Regions from separate parts of the Homo sapiens genome. Here regions 2 and 3 are each linked to region 1. The links come from fine-mapping of genetic effects on gene expression. A gene starts in region 1. Each other region holds a variant in brackets. All regions are shown on one strand. Distances are from middle to middle.

Region 1 (11,185 bases):
TTTTAAGATGTAATCTATGTTCTCAAAAAACTAAAAATAGAACATATACACTAGGGATATATGCCCCCTAAAAAGGAAATCAGTATCTTGAACAATATGTGCACTCCCATGTTTATTGCAACACTATTCACAATAGCCAAGATACGGAAGCAATCTATATTTCCACAACAGATGAAAAGATTAAAAAAAAAAAAGTGGTATATATACACAAAGGAATACTACTTAGCCATAAAAAAGAATGAAATCCTGCATTGAAGACCACATGGATGAGCTTGGAGGACATTAAGTAAAAATAAGCAAGGCACAGAAAGATACATAATGCATGTTCTCACTCAAATGTAGAAGCTAAAAAAATTGATTTACCAGGCATGGTGGCCCATACCTGTAATACCAGCATTTCGAGAGGTTGAGGCAGGAGGATCTCTTGAGCCCATGAGTTCAAGACCAGCCTAAGCAACATAGTAAAACCCCATCTCTACTAAAAAAAAAAAAAAATAAAATAGAAAAATTAGCTGAGTATAGTAGCTCATGCCTGTAGTCCAAGCTACTTGGGAGGCTGAAGCAGAGGGATCAACTGAGCTGGGAGTTGGAGGCCACAGTGAGCTATGATTGCACCACTGCACTCCAGCCTGGGTAACAGAGTGAGGCCCTGTCTCAAAAAAAGAAAAAAAAAAGTTGACCTCATAGAAGTAGAGAATACAACAGTGGTTACTGTTAAGTTGGGAAGGGTGAGGCGGGTAGGAAGATGTTGGTTAACACAGCGGTCACCAATGTTTTTGGCATCAGGGACTGGTTTTGTGGAAGACAATTTTTCCACAGGACAGCGTGGGGATGGTTTCAACAAAAGACATTAGACTCTCACAAGAAGCTGGCAACCCAGATACCTCGCATGTGCAGTTCACAACAGGAACAGGATTTGTGCTACTATGAGAATCTATATGAGAATCTAGTGCCACCACTGATTTGACAGGAGCCAGAGGTCAGGCTGTAATGCTCTCTTGCCCACTGCTCACCTCCTGCTGTTCAGCCAGTTCCTAAGAAGCCACGGACCAGTACTGGTCCACAGCCCGGGGTAACAAAATTATGGCTAAATAAGAGGAAAAAGTTCTAGTATTCTATAGCACCATAAGATGATTACAGTTAATAGTAGCTTAATGTATATTTTCAAACAGCTAGAAGAGCAGGTTTTGAATTGTTTCTAACATGAATAATGTTTGAGGTGACAGATATGCTAATTACCCTAATTTCATCATTATTATGTGTATCCAAATACCACACTGTGCCCCCTAAAAAGATGCGACTATTATGTCAATTAAAAATAAAAAAGAATAGCCCTAATAGCCTATTCAAGTAAAAAAGTAACCTATGATTTTTTTGCAGCAAAATTTAATATTTTAATAATAAATATAGTGTTTAATGTTAACTACATTATAAATTACCCAAATTGGAGGTATCTGTTTCTTCATTATATAAAAATATTTTATTACAGTAATATGATTAAAGGTATTAACCTCTGAAACCACTGAATGTCACGTTTGTCATATTAAACCATAAGTGGTTTCAAATATGTCTTAATGTCCATATAATTAAAACAATAGAACAAATTCAATCCTTTTCCTAAAAAGTAAAAAAGGGCAAGAAAATATGGAAATTGTTTCAAGCTTTCAAACAATATATGGAGCAACCACTGAAATTCTGTAGATGGAACAGCAGCAAGTCTACTTTGAAAGGCACTGCTGACAATGAACTTCTTTCCACAGCAATACACAATTGATTCCATAAAAACGGCAGAAGCTGCTAAACGTGTACAGATTAACATCAAAGACAAACAAGTTGACTGTAACTGAAAAAACACAAACAAATGAACAAACAAACCAAAATCATTAGGATTTTTCCCCTCCCCATTTTCCTATGATCTTTAAATCAACAGTTTCAAGCATAAAAAATATGCTCACATTGTGATATGCTAGCATTTCCTATTTTGAGAAACAATGCAACCTCCTAAACCAGGACATAAAGTCAGAATGTGTGATTTTAATTTCTGAAAAAAGAACATGCATAATTTATTACAATTCTGAATACTCATCTAAAATATTTAAAGACAAAAAAAATGGAGCACAGCCTCCTACTGAGAAAATTATCCTTCCTCCCAATTTCAATTTTTATATCTGACATCAAATCCCTGTTTAAAGTTTCCTTAGGTCATTTTAAAAATAAATAAAATATTGTTTCATTTTTAAAAAGTTGTTAATGCCCAGTTGATACTGCAGTTGTAAATGATATGAAATTTCTCGTGTGATGTTTTAGTCCACTTTCTGTTTCTTATAACAGAATACCAGAAACTAGGTAATTTATAAAGAAAAGGAATGTATTTCTTACAGTTATGGAGACAGAGAAGTCCAAGGTCGAGGGGCCAGATCTCGAGAAGTCGAGAGCCTTCTTGCTGGCAGGGGATCTGTGCAGAGTATGGAGGCAGCATAGGGTGTCACATGGCAAGGAGGCTGAGCATGCTAACATGCTTACTCAGGTCTTTCTTCCTCTTCTTATAAACCACCAGTTCTACACTCCTATGATAACTCATTCATCCATTTATCCAATAACAAATCAATCTATAAGTGGATTAATCCATTCATAAGAACAGAGTACTCATGATCCAGTCTCCTCTTAAAGGCCCCACATTGGAGATTCAATACTGTCACATTGAGGATTAAGTTTCCCATACACGAAATTTGGGGGACACATTCGAATTATACCATGTGGTAAAGGCTACTCTTGATCTTTGTTGTTTAAAGCTAGAGAACTAATGGCCAGGCACAGTAGCTCATGTCTGTAATCAAAGCACTTTGGGAGGCCAAGGCAGGAGGATCACCTGAGGCCAGGAATTCAAGACCAAACTGGGCAACAAAGCACTCCATCTCTTTTTTGAAAAAAATATAATAAGATAAAATAAGATGAAATAAAGTTAAAGTACTATTTCTAGAAAACATTAAATGCAATTTCACTATCTGAGAAAAATAGCTTTCTTGTGGAAATTACTACCAATAAAGAAATCAAGAGATGTTTTCATTTACCTACAGTAAGAAGTGATTACCTTCATATTAGCACTTTCTAATCTTTTCAAAAAGGATAGAAGAAATTAACAGTTCTCGCAGTGGAGAAGAGCCACAATTCTTGGATATGTAAATCTATGTTAATCAAAGATTAATTATGCCACATATTTCATGGCTAATAGGAGAGAAAGAATGCTGACCACTAGGCAAGGAGAGGATGTTTAACTGACATTCATATTGATATAGATATAATGGGCACTGTCAATGACAACGAGTAATGATGATTTCTTAGGAAAGCATGTTCAGAGTTTTGCACATCACTGATTATCCCATTTTTATCTATTACACTTTTTGAAAAGAAAGACCCATTCTCTTAAATTGCCTAGTTAGAAAGTACTCTTTATGCAATAATGTTAATCTATCTTGATTTCTAAATATTTTAATAATGTCCTTTTTAAATTTTCTGCACAATATGATATTTTTGTTTTTTTGAACCACAGCCACTCCACCCTCACCCACACCCAGGATCAGAGATTAAAGCAAATGATTCTTTACACTCTCTCAAAAATAAATCCAGACTTTGGAAAATTACACAGTAATGTACAAGCATATAAAAACTCAAGGTCAGAAGTAATTTCAATAATTGCAGGGAGCTCTCTGGAGGTATCTGCCTGTAATTTAACAACCAACTATGGATGTAAACCGAGACAGTGATACTATCGTTATGCACCACGAAATTTTCCTAAGAGCTTTGATCAGATTCCCCTAAATAGTTTATGCATGTCTCTGTATGCAATCATAGGCGCTGACCTGGAATAATTAAAATGAAAATAATCAGTGCTGTATCTGTCTTAACATATACAAATTCGGTTTATCAATGTGAAAGCAGATCTGCAAAACTCAGTTGTCAAAAGGTGGCCTACGGTATTTTCATGACAGAGAATCTTTGTTAGGTTTGTTAATGTAACATGTGCAATGGAGGCTGGTGTATGTAATTAGTTTCCTCCTCAGAGAGATACTAGGAAGGTGGACGACAGTACCCCGGGAACTCACACGTCGGTCTAGGGCCCTTTTTGTCCCCCACCCTCACCTCACTCCTCAGACATGCACTCTCCCATCACATTTGAAGCCCCGGTGGGCAGTTTTCTAGGGTCGTTTCACTGGAGCGTTAAATGGCATCTGACGCCACCGGGCAGCCTGGGGTTGGATGCCATAGCCGCCAGCACCCACGGCTCACCTCCAGCTTGTGGTTGATTTGAGACACAGACTGGGCTTTGTGGCAAAGCTGTGCAAAGCAGGAGCTCAGGCTGGTCATCTTCTGTCGCCCCTCATAAGTGATGTCCGCTTGGTCTGGATCGATCTCTCCCAGGAGCAGATCCACATCCACAAAAGCTTTGTCGAACTCCTTCTCCAGCACCTCCAGCCACCGGAACATGGATACCCCGCCAGGGGCCCCCACGGAGCAGGAGGCGCCCCCTGGGCCCCCTCCGGCTGCTGCTGGGCATGGACCGCCCGCCGACATGGCGCCGTCAAGGGCCTCTCCCGACTGCTGAAGACCCTCGCCGCCCCCCGCGCACGAAGGGAACTGCTGGGACTGAGGGGACCCCCGCGCGCGCGGGCACACTCCGTCACCTCCCTTCACCTCGCGCCGTTAACGCCAGCAGCACAGTCACAGAACCGCAGGAGTAACGAGGCTGAAGCTGAGGCGGCAACGGCGGCGACACACGGAAGACTCAGTCAGTCCCACCTCCCAGCCTGCCCCCGCTGCGCATGCGTAGCGAAGAGCTGGGCGGACGCAGCCACGAGGGACAAAATAGGCGGGGACAGGATGCGATCTTGGCCTATGAAAGGCCTCAGCTTGGGAGCGGCCTGTCAGCGGCCATATTAACAACTGGCAAACTACGGCTTGAATCCCTGAGAAACGGAGGCGCGTGGTTTCTGCACCCTGGTTGGAAAGGCCCGAGGATGAGAAAGGTGTCCACGTCGCAGAAAGGAAGGATTTCCGCCGGTTTGACTTAACAGTTGGCGGGAGCCGTTCCAAAATCCTCCCAGAAAGTTGCTGCGGTGGCATCTAGGGTCAGGGAGGGGAGAGCAAGGAAGGGCGGTGTGAGCATGCGCAATAGCCACGTTTTTACCTTCTCGATTCCAGTTCCTGGATAGGATGGAGTGGGTGTACACACTGGCTGTTCTTGGTAAACCAGACCCCAAATTCCAGGTGTGGACTGCCTAAAGCTGCGCATTGAAGCGGCTGACCAGATTTTGCGGAATTAATAGAAGACTTTTTGTCTTGTGATTAAGAGTCAGGTAGACCTGGATTCAATTCTTACCCTCTGTCACATACTACCTGTGTCGCCTTTCATGTATTAACCTCGAAACCAAGTTTCCAAATTTTACTTAACTCAGTTGTAAGGTAAAACGCTTAGCGTCACTTCTTGGCACACGGTATTCCTCTTAATACACCATAGGTCACACATTTCAAAAGCAACTACAGTAGTGCTTCACTTAAGATGGGGATATGTTCTTAGGAATGTGTCCTTAGGTTAATCATCCCTTAGGGAACATCCTAGAGTGTATTTAAACACAAACCTAGATAGTATAGCCTACTACACACCCAGGCTATATGATGTAGCCTATTGCTCTTAGGCTGTAAACCTGTACAGCATGTTGCCATTCTGGATACGGTAGGCGATTATAACACAGTGGTAACTATTTGTGTACTTAAACATATCTAAACATAGAAAAGGTACAGTCATATACTCTTATAGGATCACCATAGTTTATGCGATCCATTCATTGCTGAAGCCTTGTTATTTGGCACATAACTGTACTTTAAAAGGTGTATTTATTTGAAAACTGGTAGTGTCCTCACACGTGACATTTCAGAAAATCAAAATTGTGAATTCATATATTTACAAATATATTGAATGCAGAGCTCTGTTGCGACATTGAAGACACAAAAATGAATGAGACATGACCCTTACTCAAGATAGGCTAGTGAGGCTACTACCCCTCAACTATAACTTTAACTTGAATTTTTCAGTGCCTTTAAAAGTATCCAGCAACTCCTCTCTTTACATTCTGCCTACTTCCAGTTCAAGGGTAGACAGTCCTAGAAAGGGAAAGAGAAACCTGTGTGATTAGAGTAGGCTGGTGGAAACTCCTGCATTACCTAGAAGCATATTTAGCTGAGTGCAGTCTGCTGTTATCTGTTCTTGGGGCAGACCCTTACGGTTAATCACAACCCAAAGCCTGCATTGTGTGCCCTTCGCTGATGCAAGGCAACTGAGGAGCAAGAAATCACAATTTTATTATTGCAGTCTTTGTACTGCATGGCAGACTGGTTAGCATGAAGCAATAAAGTCCTTTGGCTTGAGCAAACTTAGCTAATCAAAATGGATCATGAGATCCTGACCTTAGACTTAAGTAGGGACCTTCATACAGGTTTTAGTACACAATAAATAATGTAAAACTAAAATTTACATCTTTCCCCATTCCCTTCCAAAATTAGCTTTATTTTCATCTACAATATTTGCAAAAACATTGCTACAGCTATCAAGCTCCCAGCCACTTTATCTACACATAATACAGTTAGCAATGCATTTTCAGGAACGCGAAGTAAATAATTTAAAATTAGCAGGGCAGGGGGAGAATACATCGAACCACAATTATAATAGCTTTCAATTATTGAGTCCTTACTATGTGTTAGGCATTATGCTATTTTCTTTAATTCTTTGATCCTTACAAAATCCTATGAGGTAGGTATGATCACGTCTTTTATTGTTGTTGTTGAGACAGGATCTTGCTCTGTCGCCCATGCTGCAGTGCAGTGGCACGATCACAGCTCACTGCAGCCTCACTTTGTTGACCAGGCTGGTCTGGAACTCCTGGACTCAAACAATCCTCCTGCTTAGGCCTCCAAAAGTGCTGGGATTACAGGTGTGAGCCACCACACCCAGTAATCACTTTTTAACAGCTAAAGTCACAGACAGCTTAAGTGTCTTGGTAAGGTCACAAAACTAGAAAGAGATTGAGGTAGTATATCAATCTAGGTGTCTTTTTCTCCTAAGTTGTTGCTGTTAACCATGTAATACAGAAGAATGAAGGAATCTATTTCTTCTTGTAAAAGTTAGCAGTATAATAAACTAGCAAGTAAGTTCCAAAAGTTCTTTTTAATTTCTTCCTAGTTAGAAACCATATACAAATCTATTAACATATAAGAACCATTACCAAAAATTGTAATAACTCATTTTCTATTACTTGTAACTCTAATTTATATGAACCACACTTGAGTATAAATTTCATTTCTTTAAAAAATCAACTTCCAGCTACATTGTGTGGGTGCAGCTGAGTGACATTTTAAGTGTTTATATGTTTCCAGTGCTCTAATGGTTTGTGGGTACCCCCATTTTCGAGATTGCAGAACCCAGCTTCGTATCTATTACCTTTACAACTTCAACAAGTCATAGACTCATCTGTGTCTCAGACGAGTTTCATGTCATGTTGTCCCTTCTCATTACTGTAGTATGTAGACATAATCTTTTGCCCACCTGGATTGAGGTTATGCAAATCTGCAAGTCACAGCAGAACATGGATGTGAAAAGGAGGGCTTATCATCGGGGCTTGATGTTCAAGTGCTGCCATCTGTTGTCGGTGTACTCTATCTACACTTACTGCCTTATCCTTACCTACTCTGGAATTGGAGATTGCATGTAATGTCAATACTTGAGCGATTTGTTTTTCCACAGATATTAAAGTCTTGATACTTCTATTTGCAGTTGGATTGGCAGAAGCTTCCAATAACTGTTTTATGAATCATGCTTATGTGATTTTTAAAAAATATAACTTAAATGTGACACTCTTGTTTTAGGAACTTATCCCTACAGAGTTTTGTCACAAGGCATTACTAAAAATAAATTGGTTGGAGACTGAGGAAATTGGGGAAAGAGAGATGATGCTAAGGGTTTCTTTGATAGGTACTGGTAATTAACTGCGGGGTCAGTGTATAGTTTAAATATTTATGGAGCATCATTGATTGCAAGGGCACTGTAATAAAAGGGTGTATAAGACCCACCTTGGACTGGAGAGGGAGATTATCACTTATTGAACTCTACTGTGTTCCAGGCCCTGTACCTAACTTCACGTGTTTCATTTAGTTTCCAGTAACCCTACCAAGAGAAGGGGTTAAGTATATGCTGTTAGTGGCTATAACAAGTTGTATGTATGGTGAATGAAGAAAGTAAAAATCCACTAGCATTTTATTTAATCAATGTAGGAAAGGTTTGGAGTGTTGTATTCATACATATTATTTATATTTATTGAATTTATTATTCATATTACCAACAGTTTTGAAAATTTCAGATACATATGCTAAAGAAGTAAGTTTAGGAATCCAAAGGGATTTATTAGCCTTATTCTCCTGATTATTTCCCTTATATAAACAAAGGGATCTGGGTGTGGCGGTGTGCACCTGTAGTCACAACTACTTGAGAGGCTGAGGTGGGAGGATTTCTTGAATCTAGGAGTTTGAGACCCTCCTGGGCAACATAATGAGATCATGTCTCAAAAACAAACAAAAAACAGGACAACTGTTTGCTCTCTTGTTTTTAAAACTTGAGAATTTTGGTACAGTGATTTAGAATTAGCTCAGACACCTCCTCTTCCAGGAAGCCTTCCTTCTTTCTCCTCATATGATGCTATGGGCTCCATCCCCAATTAGTTTCCTGTAAATATCTTTTACCGCATTTATCATATTATTTTGGAGCTTGTTAGACTGTGAGTTCCTTGGCAACAATAACTGTATCTTACTTATCTTTGTATCCCAGGTCCTAACACAGGACCTAGAATGTGGTAGGAATGCTATAACTATTTGTGTGATAACTTCAATAATTAAGGTATTCGATCATTCTACCTAGGAAACTAACAGTCACTTCACTTTTCAAGACATACTTGTGATACATGCTAGAGAGCATAGCTAAATATTAATATATTTTTATATTGCCTCAGAGATTAGGATATCTATAAATTACATATTAGTCTTTCTTTTCCAAACCTAAAGTTTTATTTTACAATGATCTGGCTTATTTGACTAATAAATCCATTATAATTTAGGCTTCAAGGATTCTTTTGCTTATTCCATTGTTAAAATTTACTAGATACTATGTTTTGTATAGTATATTCAACCTAAAACCAAAACATAATAAATTTTACACTATCAAAGACAGACTATAACTGCTTTTCCCCTTTTCCCCGATGTACATTCTTCATCTACCACTTCCCACAGCTCCAGGTTTGCTTCAGCCTTGTCTGAAACCACCATTTATCAACAGTAGTATCAGAGTTTCCTACTCATGTTTTCTTCTTCTTTTGTCCACTGTGAAGTCACTGTTTATTTCTCAAGTGTCAGACTGTATGGATCAAACATAGACTTTCCTTCATCACCTTCTGTTTTTTTTTTTATAAATTAGTCTACTAAGGGCCTCCGAAACAGTTGTATTCCAAATACCCTTCAACAATAATTATTTTTTCGAGTTTTGACTGAAAAGTATAAGTTATCTAATTAGAAATTTCAGCTGGGTGCCATGGCTCATGCCTGTAATCCCAGCACTTTGGGAGGTCGAGGCAGGCAGATCACCTGAGGTCAGGAGTTCGAGACCACCCTAGGCAACGTGGTGAAACCCCGTCTCTACTAAAAATACAAAAGTGAGCCAGGCGTGGTGGCACTCACCTGTAATCCCAGCTACTCAGGAGGCTGAGGCATGAGAATCACTTGAACCTGGGAGGCAGAGGTTGCAGGGAGCCGAGATTGCACCATTGCACTCCAGCCTGGGCAATGAGAGCGAAACTCCGTCTCAAAAAAAAGAAAAAAAAAAGGAAAAAGAAAAAGAAACTAAAAGTCAGAAAAGTGTAGTGAAACTATTACACAAAAAGCTCTATCACAACAATTGCTGGAGATAGTATTTGTTTTGTCCCCAGATGATTGTAACTCACTCAGAATTTGTTTGGCTTTTGTGGCCATGGTGAGCAGAGGGAGTTAGGATGAAAAGACTTCTATAGTGAAAATTTGTCACTACATGTGGGATACTCTCCATATTTGAGCTCCCTTCCTCTAGGGAATTTCCCATTTTATGTTACTTGGTGAGAGAGAGAATTCTTCTTCCATAATAAGCTGAAAATGTCAGATGATCACTTTCCTGACTCTGTGACAGGTAGAGCACAGGGCTGTGACCTAGACTCAGCTAACTAGAATTATCCACCTGAAATTTTTAACATGGAGATAGTGAGGCAGGATTGGGAGCATTCCTTTTGGTAGGGATTGGAGAGGGAGTGAAGATAGCAGTTTCAGCAGCAGCCATGCTAGTGTTGGTGTTGTGCTAGATTCAGGTTTGTGGTAGAGGCTGGTGCACTCGTGTTCTGTAGTGGCAGCAGGAATGGTGTCCTCACTCAACTGAGGTGCAATTTTGCAATTTTGCTTGTGATTCTGACTATGCAGCCTTCCTTTATTCTTGGCCATTTCCAATTCACATTCTCCAGGCATTCTTATACTTCATTGTGCTACCCAATTTTCTTTCAGTAATTCTTTTTCTGCTTTAATTGGCCAGAATTTGTTTCTGTTGCTTGCAATCCATAACTTAAACTGATACGCCAACTATCATTTGTTGAGATCCTACTTTTTGCCCATCAACTTGATAAACTTTAGTTTGCTTCATCTATTCCTTTCTCTAAAGTGGAAATTATTTCCCCCATTTTATCTTGTAGAAGAACAAACATGAGGCTTAGAGAAGTTAAGTAGTAGAAGAATTTAATTTTCTGTGTTACTTTCAACGTATGCTCTTTATGCAACGTGCTTCAGAAGGAGAAAATATATTTAAAAAGAATCATATACATAATTTGTTTAATCTTTAAAATGTCTTTTATCAGAGACAGGGGTTTTCAATTTTTTTTTTTTTTTTTTTTTTTTTTTTTTTGAGACGGAGTCTCACTGTCCTCCAGGCTGGAGTGCAGTGGCGCCATCTCGGCTCACTGCAAGCTCCGCCTCCCGGGTTCACGCCATTCTCCTGCCTCAGCCTCCCGAGTAGCTGGGACTACAGGCGCCCGCCAACACGCCCGGCTAATTTTTCGCATTTTTAGTAGAGACG
Region 2 (11,185 bases), 31 kb before region 1:
TTTGATTTCCTCACAAAACAGTTTTACTGAAGAAATTCTGAGGCCTTCACATTTTAAACATTTAATAATAATGAATATGTTAATAATAATTTTTAGAGTGATTTTTACCTTGTAATACTTTGATTTCCCCACTTGTGTCTTTGCAACTAGCACCAGGGTTACCACCTCCTTCTAACTCATCAAGGTACAAACGGTAACGATGTCCACTCTCATCTTCATACTCTACGTTTTCATCATCAGAATCCACTTCAGGAGCCACATAAACTACTTCAAATTCAATCTCTCCTCTCTAAAACAGGAAATGAAAATGAGAAAGTCAAGTTATTGTAATTGTAATTTAAAAAGGATTTCCAAATTCTTTGTGGGAAGGCTTAGGGGTAGAGAGATCTAAGAGATAGCTGATTTCCAGAAAATAAATAATAAAATTCTAGAATCTAAAGAGGTAGTGAGGCCATCATGTCTGATCAGCCTCGTGAATCCTCTCTACAGTTCCTTTAAACATTATAGTAGCTCTTTCTACTGACCATAGTCTTTTTGCTAATAGATCTAAAATTTAAGAGGATGCTTAATTATTAAATTTATAGAATTTTGGAACAAGTATTCAGTTTTAAAGTTATTTGCTACTTTGTACTGCACACAGCAATTCAGCAAATACATCTAAATAGTCAGATATTAAATAAGGATATCATACAAACCTTTCCTTAACTAATTCAAGAAACCCCTAGAAAATGATTTTTGTACACTGCCATAAGGACATCATATAAATCTTTTCTTAACTAATTCAAGAAACTCCTACAAAATGATTTTTTGTTTCTTATTCAATAGGTCTTGAGTAAGAACTTACACTGAGTACCAGACACAGACATAGTGTTAATCAAGGTATTCTGTCTCGTACTAATAGTAATTACTATATTTATATATTTACTATAAATTATAGCCTTCAATCCCCAGAATAATCCTATTATAGTCTCTTTTACATGAACGAGAAAGCTGAGTGAGTCCTGCAGAAAGCAGATAACTTTCCCTACATAATGAACAAGAATAAAGAAAAACAAAAGTTTGACTCTGAAGTCCTTAATCTTTATATTATGCTAGACTAACTGTGTAATATTTGTACTGTCATTCTTTAACAATGAAACATTCAAGTAAAAAGTTACAGATCATGCCAGGCACAGTGGCTTACACCTGTAATCCCAGCACTTTGGGAGGCTGAGGCAGGTGGATCGCTTGAGCTCAGGAATTCTAGACCAGCCTGGGCAACATGGCAAAACCCATCTCTACAAAAAAAAAAAAAAAAAAAAAAATTAGCTGGCCATGGTGGCAGGCATCTGTAGTCTTAGCTACTCAGGGGGCTGAGGTCGGAGGATCTGTTTGAGCCTGGGAGGTTGAGGCTGCAGTGGTCCGTAATTGTGCCACTGCACTCCAGCCTGGGTGACAAAGTGAGATCCTGGCTCCAAAAAAGAAAAAAATGTTACAGATCGTTTTATGTTAAAAGAAAAATTTCCAAGCTATAATTGTCATTTAATAAGAGACTCCAACCACTACATATAAGTGTGGTGTTGGCAATTCTGAAAACTATGGCTTGCCTTTGCTCAAAAGAAAACACGGCATTTTTGACTGCTACTCACTAAGTTAGTCTCTTTGGTGCTCTTCTTTCCCAGCAGTTTAAGGTTATACCTCAGAATTTTAATATGTGCTTAGTTAGCATTTCCTTAAAACTTATGGCTGCCCATTGATAGCTCCTTCACCAGTTATCCCACTCTTTTGCTACTGGATGACAGTCAAGATGGATTGATAAAACACTAACTTAAGAGAATAGCGTAGCATTCTTAGATCTCTCTTGTCAGCTAATGCTTTAAAAATACCATTTTGCAGAAAGAGACAGATGATGCAGTGGTCTTCAGCAAAGTTTTAGATGACAGAATTAGATCTGTGAGTAGCTGTCATGGAGACACAGATTTCAGGCTTAATATGAGAAAAAGCTTTCTAAAAATCAGTACTGTATTACAATGGAATGGACTGGTTGATATCAGCAAGTCTTCCCTGTAATGTAATTATTGAAGTAGTGATGTTGCAAAGATTTATGCATCATATAGAATTGAACCAATGAACAATATTCACTTTCAACTCTGAGATGCAATTCTACAGAGGCATACCACACTGATAATCCAAGAAACATCTCAATGTACTACCAATGCCTCTAATTCCCTCAACTCTATTCTTGAAAGAAATAAAATAAAACAACATTTTAAGTACAACTGTATGACAAATATGACTCCTGAGTATGAATCTCAATTCTATAATTTATTTGCTTGGCAACTTTGAGTAAATCCTTTCATCGCTAAGAACTTTAGTTTACTCATTTTAAGAGAGTTGGGCTAGATAGTTTCTATGTGTGATTTCAATTTTAATATTCCATGACTAAAATCAATCTACTTCTAGCACTGTCTTTTCTGTAATACCTTATATATAGTGTTCTAGGCATTAAGGATGTTGTTTTTTCAGTCTCAGGTCCTGTTCTGAGTACTTTATATGTATTAACATACTTAATCCTCACAGCTTTCTTTCAATCCCTCCCACACAGGTGAGGACACTGAGGGACAGAGGACTTAAGTAACTTGCTCAAAGTTATGAAGTAAACAAAATGGAATGGTCCATTTTCAGTAAATCTGACTGAATGTCAGCTATAAAAGCATTAAATCAAAGGAAACAAGAACTATGTGTAAACACTTTACTACTTTAGAAACTTCGTAGGGAAGTATACAGTGTTCAATAGATTCATAACCAATTGATAGATCCAGTTCTAATTACATGAAGGGAATTTACCTGCTGAGAAAGAATAGTTACAGCTTCTTTATGCTTTGTGTCCCTTAGGTTAACTCCGTTGACTGCCAAAATAGCATCCCCAACGTGCAGCCCTCCGCATCTATCAGCAGGTTGCCCCGGATGGATCTCAGAGATGAGGATTGGAACACCATGTTCTTTCCCACCCTAACAACAACAAAGGGCAGTAAATTAAAGTACTCTTTGTAAGGTACAGTTACCGATTAATCTAGAGATAAAATATTTTCTTAAAAATATATTTCATTAAACACCTATGCTGTCTCTATAAATGCTGGGTAAAATTTTATTTGCTACTTAAGTAATGGTAAAAATTATCAGAGTATTGAACAGAAATTGGCTAAATTCTTAAATTAAAAAAAACTTATGTGTTAGTACTCCATAGCACCATTACATTTTATCAAGTCTAAATCACTACGAATGACAAGACCAATTATTTTAGGTGCCACAAAAATAATTTTAAGATTATAAGATAAATTTCAATTTCAGAGAAGTTAAAATATGAAAATATATGCAATGTAGAATTGAAAAAATGCAGTATTTGGTACCTATCACTCTCTAGCTTATATCATTGTTGCGTGTGTGTAGGGGTGTGTGTGTGTGTCTTATTTGTCCTGCTAAAATGTATGCTCTTTGAAGGCAGCACATAAAAAAAAAAAAGGTAAGTATTCAAGAAATATAGATTAGATGAGCTTTTTATTATAAGAAACATTTCTACATTAAGCAATACTAAAAAAACAAATGATCTTGCTCAGTGCCTAAGTATTACCAAATGAAAATTAAAGCCACCTTATTCATTAAAGCACTGAGATGACAACAAAATGACTCCTAAAGGCATCGAATTTAAAAAAAAGAATATATAACATTTGGACCCAAGAGCCAGTGAAATCTGACAGCTAATAAATGAGGCAAGAGAAAGATACACGTACTCCGAGAGAGAACAATACAATCTGAAGCCATTTAACATAGAAGAAAACAGCCACGTCTATTCCCAAGGGCTCCTAGAGGCATCACAGTATATGGCACAGAACTATTAAGTGAATCATAATAAAAATGTTAAACTATGCTTACTAAAG[G/T]TACACTTAATAGTTGCTAGGAATATTTATTTCTTAAAAAAATATTTACACAAAAGCAAACATTTATCCCCATGGGGATAAATTTTAGTTATTTAAAAAATATATCCAGAATATTCTGTTCCCCAGTGATGTCCAACAAAGGAGCATGATTATACTAGATAACTGTAGAAAATGATACTGGAAGTACTACTTCTTACTGTAATTGAAATGCCAAGGCCTTCATGATCTTCCTTAAGGAGGAGAACTTTTCTAATTGGACCAACACCTTGGCTTTTCTTTAGGGAATCTTGATCCTTATTGGGAGGAAAAAAGAAGAAAAAGTAGTATCATTTAAATAGCATACCAAATAGAGTAAACTCATACTATATAACTTGCTTTTAGAAATCTGTATTAACTTCCTGGAATGGATAAACAGTATAGGGTTAAGAAAGTAACAGATAAAATGGAAAAATGAAAATAGCTATTCTGTTGATGCAAAATTTATAGATGATATTCTCACCCTTTTGCCAATAATGTTTAAAATATTGATACATCTCTTTTTAAATTGTAGGGCATTATAAAAGAAATGATTTCCAGGAATTAATTGAGGAACAAATATCCTCAAAAAATAAAAGTGTCTATCTTCACTGGATATCTTTAAGATATACATTCATTTTAGCTGAGTTGTAGAGTTGAAAAACAAATTTCCAATTGGACCATTAATTACTTATACATTCCTTGGTGCTCTGGAGTCTACCTCTTAAATAAAGGGCCTTGATCCACTAATAATCTTTTCTCTGGTACCCTTACTCTTTCTGTCTCTACTAAGCTGTTTTCCTACTCAGCAGATAAATGAATCACAAGCCTCTTCCAGTTTTAAAATACTGATCATGTGCAAATGCAAAACAAAACAAAAAACCTTTCAATCCTTCACTATCTTCCTTAGCAACTACCATCCTCCCCCTTTCCTTAACCTCTACACGAAGTTCATCCTCATCATATCTACTTCCTTGCCACTCACATTCAGTCCTCTGGTCTCTGTAATTAGAGTTTTGCCCCTACATGCACAACTGGAATTTTCTTTTCTGTGGTCACCAGTAATCAATATTGTTACACACAATTAACACTTTTTGTCACTATCCTACTTCAAACTTGCAGAAAGTTGATACTGTTCATCAACCCCTCCTTGAAACCCACTCTCTCTGTTAGTTTTTATTACACTACTTTCCTAGATGGCCTGTATCTGACAGCTCCATCCCAGGCTCCTTCCTTTAGTGATCCTTTTCCTTCTCCCACTCCATAAGTTTCTATCCTTGGCCTCCTATTCTTTTTACTACATATATACTTTATATATACATATATACTTGGAACAGGCTTAATGAGTTCCAAGGTTTCAAGTATAATAGAAGGATAGTTTCCCTAATATTTCTTCAAAACAGATTTCTCTTCTGAAATCCAGAGTCATATGTCCAGTTGGATGTATCTTGGATACCCCATTGTCACCTCAAACACTACTTGTCTAAAACTGATCTCATCATCTTTTCCCCAAATCCTTCCTTTTCTTCTATTTCCCTTCCCAGTGAATGCCAGATCTCACTCAGTTGCTCAAACTAAAAGCCCAGACTCTTCTTTTTCACTATTTAACCAAAAGCAGTTAGTCACCAATCAAGCCCTCCTGATTATAATCCTCTCAAATCTATCCTTCTTCTCAAATGCCACTTCTCCTGACCTCATCACTTTCTCCTTGGATGACCATAGTATCTTTCTAATATATCTCCTTGACTCCAACTTGGTCCTCTTCACTATACCAAAATAACTATTAAAAAATGTAAATTTTATGAAGTCTGCCATTTTATTTAAAACTTCCATGATTATCAGGTTAAAGTTAAAATTCCTCTATTTAGTATAAAATAATTTCTATAATCCAGCCACTACCTAAAACCCCAACCTCATATTTAGCTAATTTAACAAGCATGCTTTTATCACTCAGACACATCTGATACAAACTACTTTGTCTTCCTCCTAACCGCTCCATTTCCCAAATCTACTGGACCTAGAAGTTAATGGGAACCACCAGTGCCCTAGAAAACAATGGCATAAGTGCTTATCGCTATCCCCACTTCTCTTCCACCAACTCTATTTACATACCAATTCTTCTTACAAAAATCTTTGCAGAGCCAACAAACTATTTTACTATTTAAGGCCATACATTATCTGGTACTAAGATATGTGAACCCTTGGGAGACATGCTTTCATATATTAAGGTCTATATTATCAAGCAGCTGTTATGATAAAATTCAATAAAGATTTATCCAGATAGAAGCTTTTATATAATGGTGGCTACAGAAGCAGACAACTGGCTACAGATCTCAAATTCTATCTTAATCCAAGACCAAACAGGTGTAAATGTTAGTTCAGAATCTACATTTGGATTCAGTTACTAAAAGTTCCCTTAAAGAACTACCCCAAAATATCTGCCAAATTATCAATATGACCACACACTCTAAGCTAAGATTAAAACAAATTCAAGCATGCCCAATCATGATCCAGGAAAAACTGGAAATATGATCCAACATTATAGCAATATGCATTTGCTAACAATGGCTCACTGTCTGCAGCACTCTCAGGGCATTAGTAAGTCTGTGAAGAGCTACTAAAATTTCTATGGGTGTTGAAACTTCATCTACTTTGAATAAGTTGAATCCCATTTTCACTTTTAAATAAAGGTTTCAAACAATACTAGAATAAAGGAAAGAATGGAAAGCAACTGTGATTAAAGAAAGAAAGAAGAGGCTGGGTGGGAAGCAGCAGCAAAGCAAACATACATGGCCTGGTGGTGCTTGCATTGGTCGTTTCAAGTCATTACGTCCTCTGCAGGCTCGGATCACAGTTTTGTGACGATGCAAATGTATTTCAGCTTCTAATTGGTTCCAAAGCTTATCATGAGCAGGTCCCTTCATATCTCGTCCTAGCAATTGTATCTGTTGGACCCTTCATATTGGGAAAAGAGTACATTGATTTTTCATTATATTCACTACAGTGAGAATTCAGGAAAATTAGTGAACATAAGTAGCTTTTGCATGAATCTCAAATTAGTGATAAAACTAATACTCACGAACTTCTTGATGTCTCTCAGATATAAAAAAAATATGAAAACTCTGAAAAGAACAGGTATCCTCAAGGGAAAAACCAGTAAAAAAAATTTTTAAAGGAATTAATGTGAACTCCTTTAGTCATATACTTAATTCAAATAAATCTAAAAAAAAATTTATGAGATTAATGTCAATCTATGTCTTGCATGCAAAGTCACTGAACTCAGATACTATTAAATGTTAGCTTTTAGATGAGATAAATGGACAAAAATATTTCTTCTAATTAGAGTTTCTTTTCACAAAATGATTACTTTAAATGTGGTTAAAAGTTACTAGAACCAGCCAGGGCAACAAGGCAAAACCTTAACAATTAACCAGGCATGGTGGCATGCCTGTGGTCTCAGCTACTTGGAAGGCTGAGGTGGGAGGATCACTTGAGCCTGAAAGGTGGACGCTGCAGTGAGCCAACGTTGCACCACTGCACTCCATCCTGAGCGACAGAGTGAGACCCCATCTCACAAAATTTAAAAAAAAAAAAAAGTTACTAGAAAATTTGTACTTCAAGATGATATAAATTATTTTTTCTTTGTTCCATGTTTTTAATGTGACATTAAAAGAATATGCACAAAATGATTTAGTACTAATAAGTCACCAAAGTTTGTTAATAATTTACTTAATAAATACAGCAGAATTCTGTGTATGATTATGATAAAATCATTGTCATTAACTAAATACCAACACGTTTTTTTGAAGGGCAAGAAAGACTGGGTTTCAGTGATCATAAAAAGAATTCCTTATGGAAGTTCTGCTATGCATGTGAATATCGGCTGTACTGGTCTCAAGGCACAAAATAGTTGAAAAGTGCTGCTCTACAGAGTTGTTAGCATTTCACAGTAAGATACTATCAGTGTTTGTGTGTGTAAACTAAACATATTTAGTATGGATAACTAGATCTGCGATACATAATGCTGTCAGTATTAATTTAACAACAGTAAGTTAAAACCAACTGTAAAATAATTCTGAGGAAAAAGATTAATGCTTCATTTACCATAAGAAAAAAGAGTAGGCCAGGTGCGGTGGCTCACACCTGTAATCCCAGCACTTTGGGAGGCCAAGGTGGATGGATCACAAGGTCAGGAGTTTGAGACCAGCCTGGCCAACATGGTGAAACCCCATCTCTACTAAAAATACAAAATTTAGCTGGCCGTGGTGGCAGGCACCTGTAATCCCAGCTACTCAGGAGGCTGAGGTAGGAGAATCGCTTGAACCCAGGAGGCAGAGGTTGCAGTGAGCAGAGATCATGCCACTGCACTCCAGCCTGGGCAACAGAGCAAGACTCCATCTCAAAAAAATAAAAAATAAAAAAAGAAAGAAGTAAGAGTCAACCTCATTAAATATCCAATTTGTCACTTAAGAGTACAATAATACCCATTTTTTACACACCTTCCTGCCAGTTCCTTATCCAAGTACTTGGCAGCTAGTCTCGCCCCATATACTTCAGCCTGGAGAACAGCTATATGTCTACGAAGGGCTTCATTCTCTTTTCTCAACAATTTCACTTCAGCTTCAAGTTGTGCTTCTTTCATTTTTTCTTTTTTGTTTGCCTCAAGCTCTCTTTCCTATGTAATTTTTAAAAGCATATAATTTAATGAAAATAAAAACTCTTTAGCACTAGACCATGTTCCTGAAAATGCACAAAAGCCTACAGTTCAACAATGTATCATCTCTATAAAATGGAACACAAAGATCTGGATGTAGTTCTTTTGAACTAGTACCATAACATCTTGGAACTACTTCTAGATAAAATAATTGCACGCCATGGGTTACCCTGATATGGAGTATAGTAAGAAAAGTAGTCTACTCTAAGCTCATGTTATCACATATTAGTAAAAGTGGCTTCAATGGATAGTTGAATCTGCTATTTACTTCTAAAACCCTTTTGAGAGTTAAATAAGGACCCCAATAGACATTTTAACTGTTATTTATAGATCAAAAAAACCACGTAAACACTGAAAACTTGCATTTATCCTGAGCAGAACTGCTTTTACAGAATCCACAAATCCTATGAAAACATGGTTACATTTGTTCACAATATGTGGAAGACATTATTCCCTATACCCCCTTTGTCCCTTTTGTGAGGACGTAAATAAAAACCTACCTTAGCACCAGAGAAATTGTTTCTCTTGAGGAAATGATGAATAGTATTGTTTCTATTGTATGGGCACTGATTATTTTACATAATTATTTCCCTTTTTATTCTGGATATTGAGAAGCTAAGAAACAAATTTAAGCAAATTTTCAGCAATTCATGGAATATATTTTGGTACTAATTTAATGTGCCTCCTTTGGTCTACTGTTTTGAACAACATCAAAATAGATATATTTGAATACTAGTCAATAAATACGATAATCCTAAAAAAAATATATTTACATATACACACACACATACAAGCTAAAATTAATGACAACTACTAAATGCTAGATATATTTATCACTTCTTTGATTAAAAATATTTGTTATATATATGACAAACAGATGAAAGATTAGCAGACTCAATTTCTGGGAAAAAAAAGATTAGAACGTAATTTCTAGATACTGGTTTTAAAGGATTCGAAAAACTCAATCTAGAATCCTCCTTTTAACATAATTTTGGAATTATTAAACTCTTATTTCAGAACCTATGTCCTAAAAGGGCAAGTATCTGTTTCAAAAGAAACCAGTTTGGAGATACAAACAAAAATCTTTCTTATGACATGTTAAAGTTGATGCAACTTTTGAAAGAGCACTCCTAGACCAAGATTTCTTTGGCTTATGGGCTAAATAAACTTTATGTTGATGATTACCTACTTTCAATTACTTTAATGAGCTATTTATACTACATTAATGAAATGTGGGAGACATACTAAGCTACCACTCACTGGGGTTTTAATGATTCAAATCCCTAATGAATCTGACAAACTCTTGGGCCCGAAATTAACAGAGGTAAGCAAGAATAAGATGAAGGAAACTGAAGTTAACCATTTCTAGATTTCCAGAAAAAAATTTTCTTGGTTCTTAGTTAACCTGTTTGTTACTAGGTAACACCCAAGATGTTCATTTTACATTTAGATACCAAAGATTATATCTTCAAAAGAGGTAAAGCCATAAGACAAATTGGAACTTGATTAGGTTGGGGTAATGAGAAAAATATTAAAAATGTATTGTTATTTTCTAAAATAACTTCTGCTAAAGCATTTCAAAATTCAATTGTTTCAAAGGCCATACGATTATTCTCAAGACTCTTGAAAAGTTGTAACGCAGTAGATGAAGAAGAAACCAACATGCACATTCTTTTCTGGAAATAATTTCAAACAGAAACTTAAGGGGGTTAAAAACTAAGCCTGCTTGATATATCTTCAATACCCTGAAGTGGGAAAACCAATTGCTCTTTGAAGTAGAGGTATGAGCAAGCTACAAGGCTCAAAAATTGTCAAAAATTGACAGGCTCTGCAAATAATGGCTATAAATCACTAACAAAAGAAAAATGTTTAACAACATGCAGTGAGAAAAGAGCAATGGGCCATCCACTGAACTTTTCAGGTACTGGAACATTAAAAAATTGCCATTATTAATGCTATTTTCAAATACAATGAGTGACAACATATAATATGCAAATAAAACACTAAGAACACTTCAGCGTGACATATTAAAGCAAAACAGAAACAATATACTTACCAGCTCCTCCACAGAGGGGCCAGACTTCAGATATAAGAAAAAAGTTTTATAATTAGAAAAAGATCAAACAAATGATTTTATTTAGTGGTATAGTCATTATAAGGAAAAATCCCACATGTTGGATATCATTTGGGTAAAGTTCATTAGAACAAATATATTTGCAATCTATAAACAATAGTAACTGTAATAGCATTAGATTAAAACTTTTTGTTTTATCAAAATTAGTCAACATAACTGGTACAGTGTTCTTTTCATCATACTCTTTCAAATTCTAATGTTAAAACTTCAGGTAAATTCTTTTCTAGAGAAAATTTAGATTGTTTCTGAATGTTAATGTCAAATAGCTCGAAGAAGCAGTTATGAGCTTTTATTTCAGTTAAATAAAACCCTTCTAACACAGATTCACAGAGTTAGAAAACTTAAGAGTTTAACTTAAAATTATTTTCATGAATTTTAACACATCAGTACTAGGAACTAATTAAC
Region 3 (11,185 bases), 43 kb before region 1:
TTTATTCCTTTTTTTCCCCCTCACAAGGAATGTGCTTAATTTTGAGCAAAGTCTTTTCAGCATCTATGGAAAATATGATTTTCCTCCATAGGACTCCTCCCTAGAGCCAGTCAGATGATTAATTACATAATTAGATGTCCCAATGTTAAACATCTGGTTATAGATATGAATCCATTACTGTATTAAATTTGCATGGATAGGATTTTACTTAGGATTTTTACATTAATATTCATTTGTGGGCCAGGTGCAGTGGCTCATGCCTGTAATCCCAGCACTTTGGGAGGCTGAGGCGGGCGGATCATGAGGTCAAGAGATCGAGACTGTCCTGGCCAACATGGTGAAACCCTGTCTCTACTAAAAATATAAAAATTGGCCGGGAGTGGTGGCTTGTGCCTGTAGTCCCAGCTACTCGGCAGGCTGAGGCAGGAGAATCGCTTGAACCTGGGAGGCGGAGGTTGCAGTGAGCCGAGATCGAGTCACTGCACTCCAGCCTGGCAACAGAGCGAGACTCAGTTGCAAAAAAAAAAAAAAAATCTTTTGTGAATCAGGGCTTTTCTTTCTTTGTGGCAATCTTGATCAGATATTATTAGCTTGACAGAAACAATTTAGAATTTTTCTTCCCTTTTTTGGTTCTCTTGCTAGGCATTAGAATTAGCTGTTGTTTGAACGTTTAGTAGCATTGCCCTGTGAAATCATGTATTTTGGTAATTTGTGGGGAGAGCACTTTGACAATTCCTTCAATTTTTCCTATGGAAATTGGTTTGTTTAGATTTTAAAACTTCCTTGGGAACAGTTTTGGTAAATTACATTTTCCTAGAAAAGTTTTCAAATTTATTCCTATAGAATTGAACAAAGTAGTCCATTATTATCCTTTTAGTTTTCTCTTTTATGGGTATTTCTCTCTTATTTCTTGTTTTGTATATTTGCATTTACTCCCTTTTTTCATGACTAGTTTAGTCAGCAGTTTGCCTTTTTCCTCTGAAAAATCAGGGTTTTTTTTTGTAGTTCTCCTGTTTCAGAAGCCAACAACCCATTTGTTACTGCCTTAGGCAGAGGTTAAAAATGCCCTCAACCATGGTGAACATGACAGTAGAGGGCACCTAGTGAGCATGACACATCCTCAAATGTCACAAAAGGACACAAATATCCTTGTTGCAGTATTGCTTCCTAAAGAATATGGGGACAGTATGCACACAAGCAAGAAATAACTTATTCCGTATTTGGTGGGGGCAGGGGAATGCTATAGTCTTGACGATCTAGAATTCTACTATGTAACTCTAGGAGTTCTCTCATTCTATAGTCACTCCACTACAGCCAAACAGTTTCTTGTGAAATTCAAACCCAGCACAATCATCATTTTTAGAAATCAAAACTGTATCAAGCCAAGGGTCCATCAAACCGTGCACCTTTTAAGAAAACTTTAGAAAAATTCTACTGCAGTTGGCAAGCATGGAAAAAATAAAAATAATTGTTGGAATAGGAGGACTGAAAGCTGACAATTTTATCTATATTTCCCCTTTCCTTCTTTGTGGCCTATTAAAGTAGAATTAAGAGAGGGATTTGAGTCTTGGCTCAGACACTTAACTAGCTGTGTGACCCTGGAAAAATCAGCCTTCAATTTATTGATCTTCACAGGAGTATTTTATTTGATGAGTTTCAAAAAGCCTTACACCGCTAATAAAAGTAAAATTAATAATGCATCTGGAATCTGCTGCCCCCTGCTGGCAATTTACCAAATTGCAAATTCTACCTTTCCAACGCATAGACTCCAAGTTTTAGTGTCGGCCTATATTTTATCTAATTTTCCTTGTTATAGTCCATTACCTATCTTCCTTTTTTAAAATATATTTTTATCTTTATAGGTTTAGGGGGTAGAAGTGCAGGTTTTGTACATGCATATATTGCGTAGTGGTGGAGTTTGGGCTTTTAGTGTAACCATCACCTGAATACTGAACATTATACCCAATAGGTAATTTTTCAACCCTCACCCACCTCCCACCTTCCTATCTTCTGTAGTCTCCAACGTCTATTATTCCACTCTATATATGTCCATGTGTACCCTTTATTTAGCTCCCACTTATAAGTGAGAACATGTGGTAGTAAACTTTGTTTCTGAGTTAGTTCACTTAAGATAATGGTCTTCAGTTCCATCCATGTTGCTGCAAGACATGATTTCATTCCTTTTTTCATGGCTGAATAGTATTCAATGGTATATATTTACCACATTTTCTTTATCCAGTCATCCATTGATGGACACTTAGGTTGATTCCATACATATCTTTGCTATTGTGAATAGTGCTGTGATAAACATACGAGTGCCAGTATCTTTTCAATATAATTTCTTTCTTTCTTTGGGTATATGCCCAGTAGTGGGGTTGCTGGATCAAATGGTAGTTCTATTTTTAGTTCTTTGAGAAATCTCTATACTGTTTTCCGTAAAGGTTGTACTAATTTACATTCCCACCAACGGTGTAAGTGCTCCCTTTACTCTGTAGCCTCCCCAACATCTGTTTCTTGACTTTTTAATAATGGCCATTCTGATTGGTGTAAGATGATATCTCATTGTGGTTTTAATTTGCATTTCTCTGATTAGTGATGTTGAACTTTTTTTTTCATGTTTATCATCCACTTGTATGTTTTCTTTTGAAAAATCTCTGTTTTTTGCTCACTTTTTATCTTCTTACTTAGACGCCAGAGGTATTTCTTTTACAACCAAATGCCCTCTTAAAACTTTAAATCAAGCTTGTTGTTCAAATCTTCCTTCTTTCCTAATTTGCCTGAAAGTTTTGTTGCAATCTCCCACTATGATGATAGATTTAACATTGTAGTAAATTGGTTCTTTAAGAATTTAAGTAACCTTTATCCCTAATGGTTTTTTTCTTAAAGTCTGTTTTTAAAAAATATAACTGTATCCATGTTCTTTTGGAGAAAATATGCCCAGTGTATATTCTTTCTCCTTTCACTTTCAAATTTTTTATGTCCTTATGTTTTAGGTATGTTCCTTTTAAACAACATATTGCTGGATTTTTTCCAATTTAAATAAAATGTTTTCTAATTTCAGTTCTTTCTTTTAATAAGTTTACACCCTGATCAAGCACTCTCAAAAGTCAATTCCAGACTGGGCACGGTGGCCAGTCTAATCCCAGCACTTTGGGAGGCGGATGGATCACCTGAGGTCAGAAAGTTCAAGACCAGCCTGGCCAACATGGTGAAACCCCGTCTCTACTAAAAATACAAAAATTAGCCAGGCGTGGTGGCACGCACCTGTAATCCCAGCTACTTGTGAGGCTGAGGCAGAGGAATCACTTAAACCCAGGAGATGGAAGTTGCAGTGAGCCAAGATTGCACCATTGCACTCCAGCCTGGGCAACAAGAGTGAAACTCCGTCTCAAAAAAAATAAAAATAAAAAATATAAAATTCAGTTCTAGGAGTACTCCTTTGGTTTTTGCCAGAATGTGCTAGCTAATTCTTACACTTTTTGTGTAGTTTCTTTTCTCCTTTATCAGGCCCAGCACATCTCCCATCCTGGCTTTACTAGGATTTAGCCCTAGTTACAGGCCTGGCAGCAGACTAGGTAGGGGCAGGTATTGCCTTAGGGATGTGGTTAGTAGCAGCCTCTGTAACATCTTGGAGCATAGACAAGGTACAAGGTCTTATTAGAGAAGCGTGGGCTTCTTCTTAAGACCAACAGTCCAGTAGAGATTGCAAAGTCTCTCAGGTGCAGCCATCCAGATCTCCCCATGGTTCTAGGTTTTCCTCACCAGGGCCTTGACTTTCACAAAATAGAAGAGGTTTCGCTGAACATTCAAGTGTCTGAAACTCAGCAACTCTTAACACTTAGGTGTTCAGCCTGAAGCTCAGCTGTTTCAATCCCTCCATTGTAGGAGGTAAGGCCTCCTTGGGAGCTGCCCCCCTCCATCCATTTCTGTAGGTCATTAATACAATCCTGCTGTAACCGGCCAACTCTGCTATTCTTGTAGATGTTGTTCTCCCACATTTTTCAAATGTCTGCATCACTGACCCTCCTGGAGAGTTCCCCTCTCCATAAGCTGGATTTTTTCCAATTTAATAATTTTTTCCAATTTAAATAAAATGTTTTCCAATTTCAGTCCCAAGTCTCCAAAACTCTCCCCAAGTTGAGTGGTTTGCTAGGACTCATCAGACTAAGCAAAGCTTTATTCACAATTATGATTTATTACAGAGAATATAAAGCAAAATGAGGAAAGGGAAAAGGCATATGGGCACAGTCCCAAGAAAATCAGGTACAAGCTCCAAGATTCATTTCCCAATGGAGTCACACAGGACATGCTTAATTCCTCTAGCAATAATGTGTAACAATACATCAAGTGTTGTCCACCTAGGAAGCTTGCCTGACTGAACCTAGGAGTCAAGGTTTTAGGGAAGTCAGTGTAGGTACCCTCTGCCTAGCATGTACCAAAATTCTAGATTCCCAGAGGAAAGTAAGTGTTCAACAAAAATCCTACTGTTTGTACAAACACTTCAGGCACAGTAAACCGCACTTACCAGCAAGGGGATAATGGGAATACTCCTGATATCCAAATTGCTGGACGCTAGCCAAGGTCCAACCTTGCAAGCAGACCTAAAGACAACAGGTTCAGGCCTGTTCTGTTAACTCTTTTCTGCACACCATTTGTGAAATAGCCACTGAGCCATGATTTTGTGCCAACGACTAGATAAACTATACTCACCAACCAGATGTCACTGTCTTTACCCTTTGGGTGGGTTCCTAATGCCCATCTTATTACCTGTTTCCTCAAATCTCACTCATGGTCACTTGTGTTAATCTAGCCTCTCTAAGAAGCAGACGCCAACACCAAAAAGGGATCTGCTGTGCAACAGATTTATTAACGGCAATGCCAGTGAGGAAAAATAGGTAGGAAGCTGGAGTTGATTGGAGGCTGGAAGGCAATGAGATCACAATGGAGTTAAGACCCAAGGTGAATGAAAGGAGGAAGGAAGGTTGGGTGAAAGCAACTTGGACTACAATGTAATCCTAAGGGAGTTTGGCAAGACCATCGTGGAGTGCTCCAGCTAAAGTTGAGGAGTCATCATATAATATCCCTGTCATAATCAGTCACTGACTGGCAGCAGCATGGAGGAGCATAGCCTCACCATGTACACAGGGATGGATTTCAGACCACAGCAGCTGGACCTTCAGTAAGCTATGCTCCCTCCTGCACGAGAACTGACAGATGCATTCTCATGGCTGCTGCCGTGGTGATTATAGCTCTCAAATCACACCTGAAAAAGGTTCATTATTGAACAAATATTCAGCACCAACAGTGCACGGTAATTTGCAATACTTTTAAAGTGTTTCTTTAAGGTTAGTTATAAAACCACCTAAAATAAAATACTGATTAACAATGAAAATACAAGTTCTCTTTAAAATTTCATAAACTGACCAAAAAAAAATTCATAAATTGACCAATATCCTATGGGGTTGTATTCTGGGGAAAAGACTTCTTTTCAAATCACTTGGTGAATTGGGAGCTTAAATCAACACACGGAAAGCATATATGTATTAGCACTAAATCAAGGTTAGTCAGTGACAAAAATGTATTTCTAATGTTCATAACATTTCTAAATGTTCATAACTCAAGTAATTCATTTACAAGTATTTTCCAAAAATTATTTTACATATAACTTAGGAACTTCTAAATCATATATACTTAGATGTCAAAATGGAAGAATACCCTTTTAAATAGTATCTTAAAAACAGGATTGATTTTCTAACTTTCATCAATGTTTTCCTCATAGATAACAACAGCTGGCAATATTTATAACACAAAATTAAGCCAAGTCCTTTGCACAGACTTTATGACATGTTGGTACAAATAATAGAACTACTAGAAATAAATAACAAGCCAAAATATTTAACGTCAAGGAAACAAAATGTTTATTTAAAAAAATGAGATCAATATCATTTTAATGTAGAAGATGCCATCTTTATTTACAGGCTAATAAAAAAATATTAAACTCAACTAGATATAATACATTATCATAAATGCAATAGATTTGAGGCCAACCATAAGTGTAAGACTGGATAGATGGAATAGGGATTACATAATCAGGATGTCAAATACTGTGCATCTTACACATGAATCACATGAAACCTTTTTGTTTCTAAACATGAAAACAGCATAAGTCCACTGCAGTGGGGAAAAAAACAGCACCACAGACAAGCTGTGCTAACTTTCGATAGCTGTTGACTTGTAATTATCAAGACTCACAAAATTTTCGTCTTTCTCAAATTTATTTTAACAATAGTCTCACCACCAAAATGTTGCTTTTCCATCATATTCATAACAGAGATACTGTAGAAGAGAATTTTAGAGGTTAAGTGTAAATATATACACGCACACATACAACCCTCACATTTTATTAAAACGTTTTCTCAACCATTCTGTTTGTGTATACATGTGTGTATTTCTCCTTCTGTCCCCTTCTCGATGAAATGGCTTTGCAACAGTTCCCTCCTTACTTGTTTGGTTTTGTCCTAGAAGTTTCAGGGACATATGAATTTCTTTCCTATAAATGTGAAAATATTAAAATTGGTTCTCAGTCCTTTGGAACTAATAACTAATTCTTAGTTCATCCCCAAAAACCATACATTCTAAAATGAACTTTTAACTAGTTACTTTCTAACACCGGACAGGAAGCTCACAGTAGCATCTGAGCAACGGTGCTCTCCCGTAGGCTTATAAACCACAGTGAAGCAGGAATGAAAAGGAAACTGACCTGTGGAGTTTTAAACTACCTGGAAACTTTTCATTCTATTTATCAGTCCTTAAAAGGAATTTATATCATGACAATCTCACACAATTCTTCAAATTACACAGTGACCTCATAAAAATTCCAACTTGAAGTTTTAAAAAACCACCTCTTCATACACTTATTCGGTAGTTCTTGAAAATCAAAGGGTTATAGCTTACATTTCCTAAGGATTCAGTCATAGCAGATAAAGGATGTTCTCTGAAAAAAATGCCATGGCCATTCCATCCCAGGCTGTGTTTTAAGAAGATAAGAATAACATGGTTTCATGTCACAGCAAAAAGGTTTTCGGGTCTGCTACAATGGACAATTTTTTTGACTAAATAAATACGGTGGCTAAAATCCAGTTTGCAGATCTCATGTCATGCATGGAAGGTATGTGTTTGGCATAGGGGATTCATAAAGAAAAAACAAGTTGTTTTTTTTCTTTTAAGAGGCCTACCCTGTCAAGAGCAAACAATAACATGTAACTTGCTTATTCATTTGTACAATTAAATACTAGCTTTTGCTCAGAGACAATGCTATAAAGTATTTTAATGTCAGTAACAATATACACTACGAAGTGCACTTCCATTACAAATTAACATGGTGATATACAGATGAACACCACCACCCAAAACAAACCATAAATGAGCAACAGTTAAAACATTAAATTTATAAATAGCAAAACCACAAAATAAAGTATATACATTTTATAGATTTACCCTTGAACAAATATAT[A/AT]GTGTATCTGGGAAAGCCAAAAAAAATGTGTTTTATCACATAACATCTGAATACCAGAAATGAAGATACTGATAATATTCTAAAAGCCTTGTAGGCTTTCTCCCACTTAATATTCCTTTAACTGTACGTCCTTTAAAACAGTGATATTAGCAAAGCTATCACCTCTTTAATGCAATGTTGTGACTTTGCCTAGCAGGTTACAATGACCTGCAGAATATTAAATCAGAGAGGAGGCACTCCATGTTTAATCATGGGACAACAGACCTAACAAATTTATAAACCTGCATATGAAGAGAGCTTTAGTCAAACATAAACTGACATGAAAACCCAACCAAAACAATTACTGTATCAAAATGTCTTTATCTCATCTTGCCCACCTTTTAGATGACTGGAAATCATTTACTTAGAAAGAAAACTGCCGTTTGATTTGAATGTACTGTGTTTCATGACATAGTAATAAATCTGAACTTTTACTACCAGAAAAATTTGTCTTTAAGTGCCAGGACTATCACAAGACAAACTTTATGAACAACTCAAAATGTATAAAACTGTCTTTTGTGGACCCCAGAAAACAAGCATTTGAGGCTCAACATGAATGGGTAAATGCTCCAGTACTGCGCACACAGATCAACATAATTGAGAACAGATGTTTTACACTCATCTGCATTTCTTTTAAAAAACAAAAAAAGTAAAATGTTTAGTAACTTTTGAGAATCTATTTCTAGTGCAGCATTGATTGATAAAAGACTGCTTAAAGAAAACTATTTTGTACTGCATTGAATAAAGCTGAAATGCAAACTCATTACAATAAATGATCATTAATAATTGGTTTAGATTTTAGGATGCACAATAAATTTTTTTAAGTCTAAAGCCTTTCAGTTACAAAAATTAAGTCAAGCCTATATTTCTACAATTCATTGAGTCAAGCTCTGTCTTCTGAAATACCACAGTTAACATTCTAGAATATAAAATATGAATTCACTTACTCTCTGTATTTTAAAGGGTACTCCTTATAAAATTCCAGTTAGCACTGTCCTCCTACTAAAGGGAAAAGGAACCAAGTAAAACAGTAGGGTTTCATTTGGTACTTAAGAGCCCAGTAATACCCCTTTGGGAAACACATGCTTTGGTGCTTACAAGTTCAAGAAAATCAAAATTGCTTTACATGCAATAGCTAATTATGGTCTACCACAGAAAACAGGGTGTTTTATGCATTGAGAATTGTTCACATGAAGCCCTGAGGTACCCGCCTTTCATTTAGGCAACAAACAGCCTCCCCTGATTTTGTAGTCTTTGTCACCATCTTCCCCAGTGCCCCAAATTCAGAATAGTCTGATTAACAATCTTGTCTGGAGATATGGTCAATTTAATAAGATTTTTTATGATACAGAGTGTGCAGATCATCTAATTTTGAAGCACCGTCATCTAGCGGAGTTTCACTTGCAGTGCCCAGGTCTCCATTTTCATGTGTGTCAGTTACTGCCTTCTTATTAAATCCTGAAAGAAAGGAGAAAAAAAAAGCAGACACTTTCTGGTTTAAAAAGTTGGTTTTGGTCAGGTGCAGTGGCTCATACCTGTAATCCCAGCACTTTGAGAGGCCAAGGTGGGTGGATAACCTGAGGTTAGGGGTTCGAGACCAGCCTGGACAATGTGGTGAAACCCCGTCTCTATTAAAAATACAAAAATTCGCCGGGCATGGTGGCACATGCCTGTAATCCCAGCTATTTGGGAGACTGAGGAAGGAGAATCACTTGAAGCCAGGAAGTGGAGGTTGCAGTGAGCTGAGATCGTACCACCGCACTCTAGCCTGGGTGACAGAGTGAAACTCTGTCTCGATTAAAAAAATTAAAAAAAAAAAAAAAGTTAGTTGTATAAGTTTATTGAGTGAAAAACAAAGGAATGCCCAAGTAATTAACATTAGTAATCTGAGGCAAAAATAATGCCTTATATTAATCAAATCAGTAATTCCTAACAGGGGAATTCTTCCCTCTTATGGCAGGTATCAAATATTGTACAGATTTAAAAATACTATATTGGGCTTATGTAAAAATTGTATTAAGTTTCCTATCAAGTTTTCCTTTCCTTTTTTTTTTTTCTTTTTTTTTTCTGAGACAGGGTCTCACTCTATTGCCCAGGCTGGATTGCAGTGGCATGATTACGGCTCACTGCTGCCTTGACCTCCTAGGCTCAAGCAATCCTTCCACCTCAGCCTCCTGAGTAGCTGGAGCTACAAGCATGTGCCACCATGTCCAGCTATATTTTAAAAATTTTTTTGAAGAGACAGGGTTCACTATGTTGCCCAGGTTGGTAACTCCTGGCCTCAAGCGATCCTCCTGCCTTGGCCTCCCAAAGTGCTTGAATTACAGGCATGAGCCACCATCAAGCTGTCTGTAAGACTTAGAAGTAATACATATAATTGTAAAATTCAGTCAATTCTACTTATATAAATATCTACTGAACTGTGAATTATATTTTTATTTTTCATTGTTGCTTTCATATTACATTAACTTCAGTTAACTGAGGCATATACTAGTTAATTGCTTAAAATGTAATTTGTTGGCAAGATGATGTCTAGCTAAAACTTAAAACGAATTCTGATCATCTATAAAATAAATAATAGGCTTATAAATAAATAAGTGTTGACTATATCACCTATTTAGGTGATATATATATCTATAAAGTATAGACGTGTGAAACAATAACCAATAGATACATTTTTTTAAGTGAGTCAGTTAAAAGATATATACACACAAATTTTTAGTTGAGTCACATTTTAAGTGTCTGCAATTTGCATATGTGACAGAGAAGACTTCTAGCCTCAGTTACAAAAAAAAGGAAGAGACAGGCTTTCTAATCCCGACAGAAAACAGCAAGTGTGAAATACAATGAAACCATATGGAGAGCAGCCCAACAATTAAGGTTTTGACATACTGCCACAATAGTTTTGCTCAAGATGCACAGTGAAAACAGTAACTGCTACTGCTATCTTTGTGCAGACAGTTTACAACACACAAGTTTATCAAAAGTGCAACAGTTTATCAGTTCACCATAAAACTCCATGCCAGGAGTTCAACATTTTGGTCTCAGGAGGCCTTTATACTAAGCATTGAGGACTCCAAGAAGCTTCTGTTTATGTGGATTATAGCTACTGATGTTTCCCATATTAGTAGGTAAAATTGAAAAATCTAAAAAAAAATTCATTTCTTTGTTAAAAATGACAATAAATCCAGAAGGTTAATATAAATAACATTTGTCTAATGACAAATAACTCTATGTTCCAAACAAAAAAATTCTAGTTAGAAGAGTAGCATTATTTTACAATTTTACAAATCTCTTCAATGGCTTTGTAGATGATAGCTGTATTTTCATATATCTGCTTCCATTCAATCTATTACAAGTATATGAAGAAAGTTCAGCCTCACACAGATATGTAGTTGCTAAATGGAAGAGTATTTTAACAGCCTTTTCAGATAACTGTCAGTATTGTTCTCTGATATTATACAAAAATTTGACAATGTGGAATTTGAAACCTTATCAGTGAACTTTTCACACTCTGTTATATTAAAATCCATTTGCCTATCTTGCATTTTGAATGGATCTTTTCCCATGCAAAATTTTATAACTTCATTTACTGGTGATTTGAAAAATATTGGACCATGAAGTTATGTAGCA

The links. PIP is the estimated chance that this variant, and not a neighbour inherited with it, causes the effect. A credible set is the group of variants that fine-mapping cannot tell apart.
Region 2: its variant is the best candidate, but not a certain one, in a credible set for the expression of GOPC in whole blood (INTERVAL, PIP 0.67).
Region 3: its variant is the best candidate, but not a certain one, in a credible set for the expression of GOPC in whole blood (INTERVAL, PIP 0.87).

The regions. Positions count from the first base shown.
Region 1 is chr6:117,597,717-117,608,901 of GRCh38, forward strand. It overlaps GOPC (golgi associated PDZ and coiled-coil motif containing), which reads right to left and starts at 4,795. Exons shown (of 9, transcript NM_020399.4): 1 at 4,288-4,795. The coding sequence starts at 4,572. It also overlaps the pseudogene NEPNP. RefSeq lists enhancers at 4,677-4,766, 4,897-5,186.
Region 2 is chr6:117,566,746-117,577,930 of GRCh38, forward strand. GOPC (golgi associated PDZ and coiled-coil motif containing) reads right to left here. Exons shown (of 9, transcript NM_020399.4): 3 at 10,703-10,726; 4 at 8,432-8,607; 5 at 6,722-6,887; 6 at 4,115-4,210; 7 at 2,827-2,991; 8 at 109-289. It also overlaps a transcript of DCBLD1 not described here. Among named protein-coding and RNA genes, the nearest start is that of GOPC, 30 kb to the right of the region's middle. The variant G/T (reference allele first, on the strand shown) is at 3,918.
Region 3 is chr6:117,554,375-117,565,559 of GRCh38, forward strand. GOPC (golgi associated PDZ and coiled-coil motif containing) reads right to left here. Exons shown (of 9, transcript NM_020399.4): 9 at 5,895-9,010. The coding sequence ends at 8,880. It also overlaps a transcript of DCBLD1 not described here. Among named protein-coding and RNA genes, the nearest start is that of GOPC, 43 kb to the right of the region's middle. RefSeq lists an enhancer at 3,904-3,953. The variant A/AT (reference allele first, on the strand shown) is at 7,514.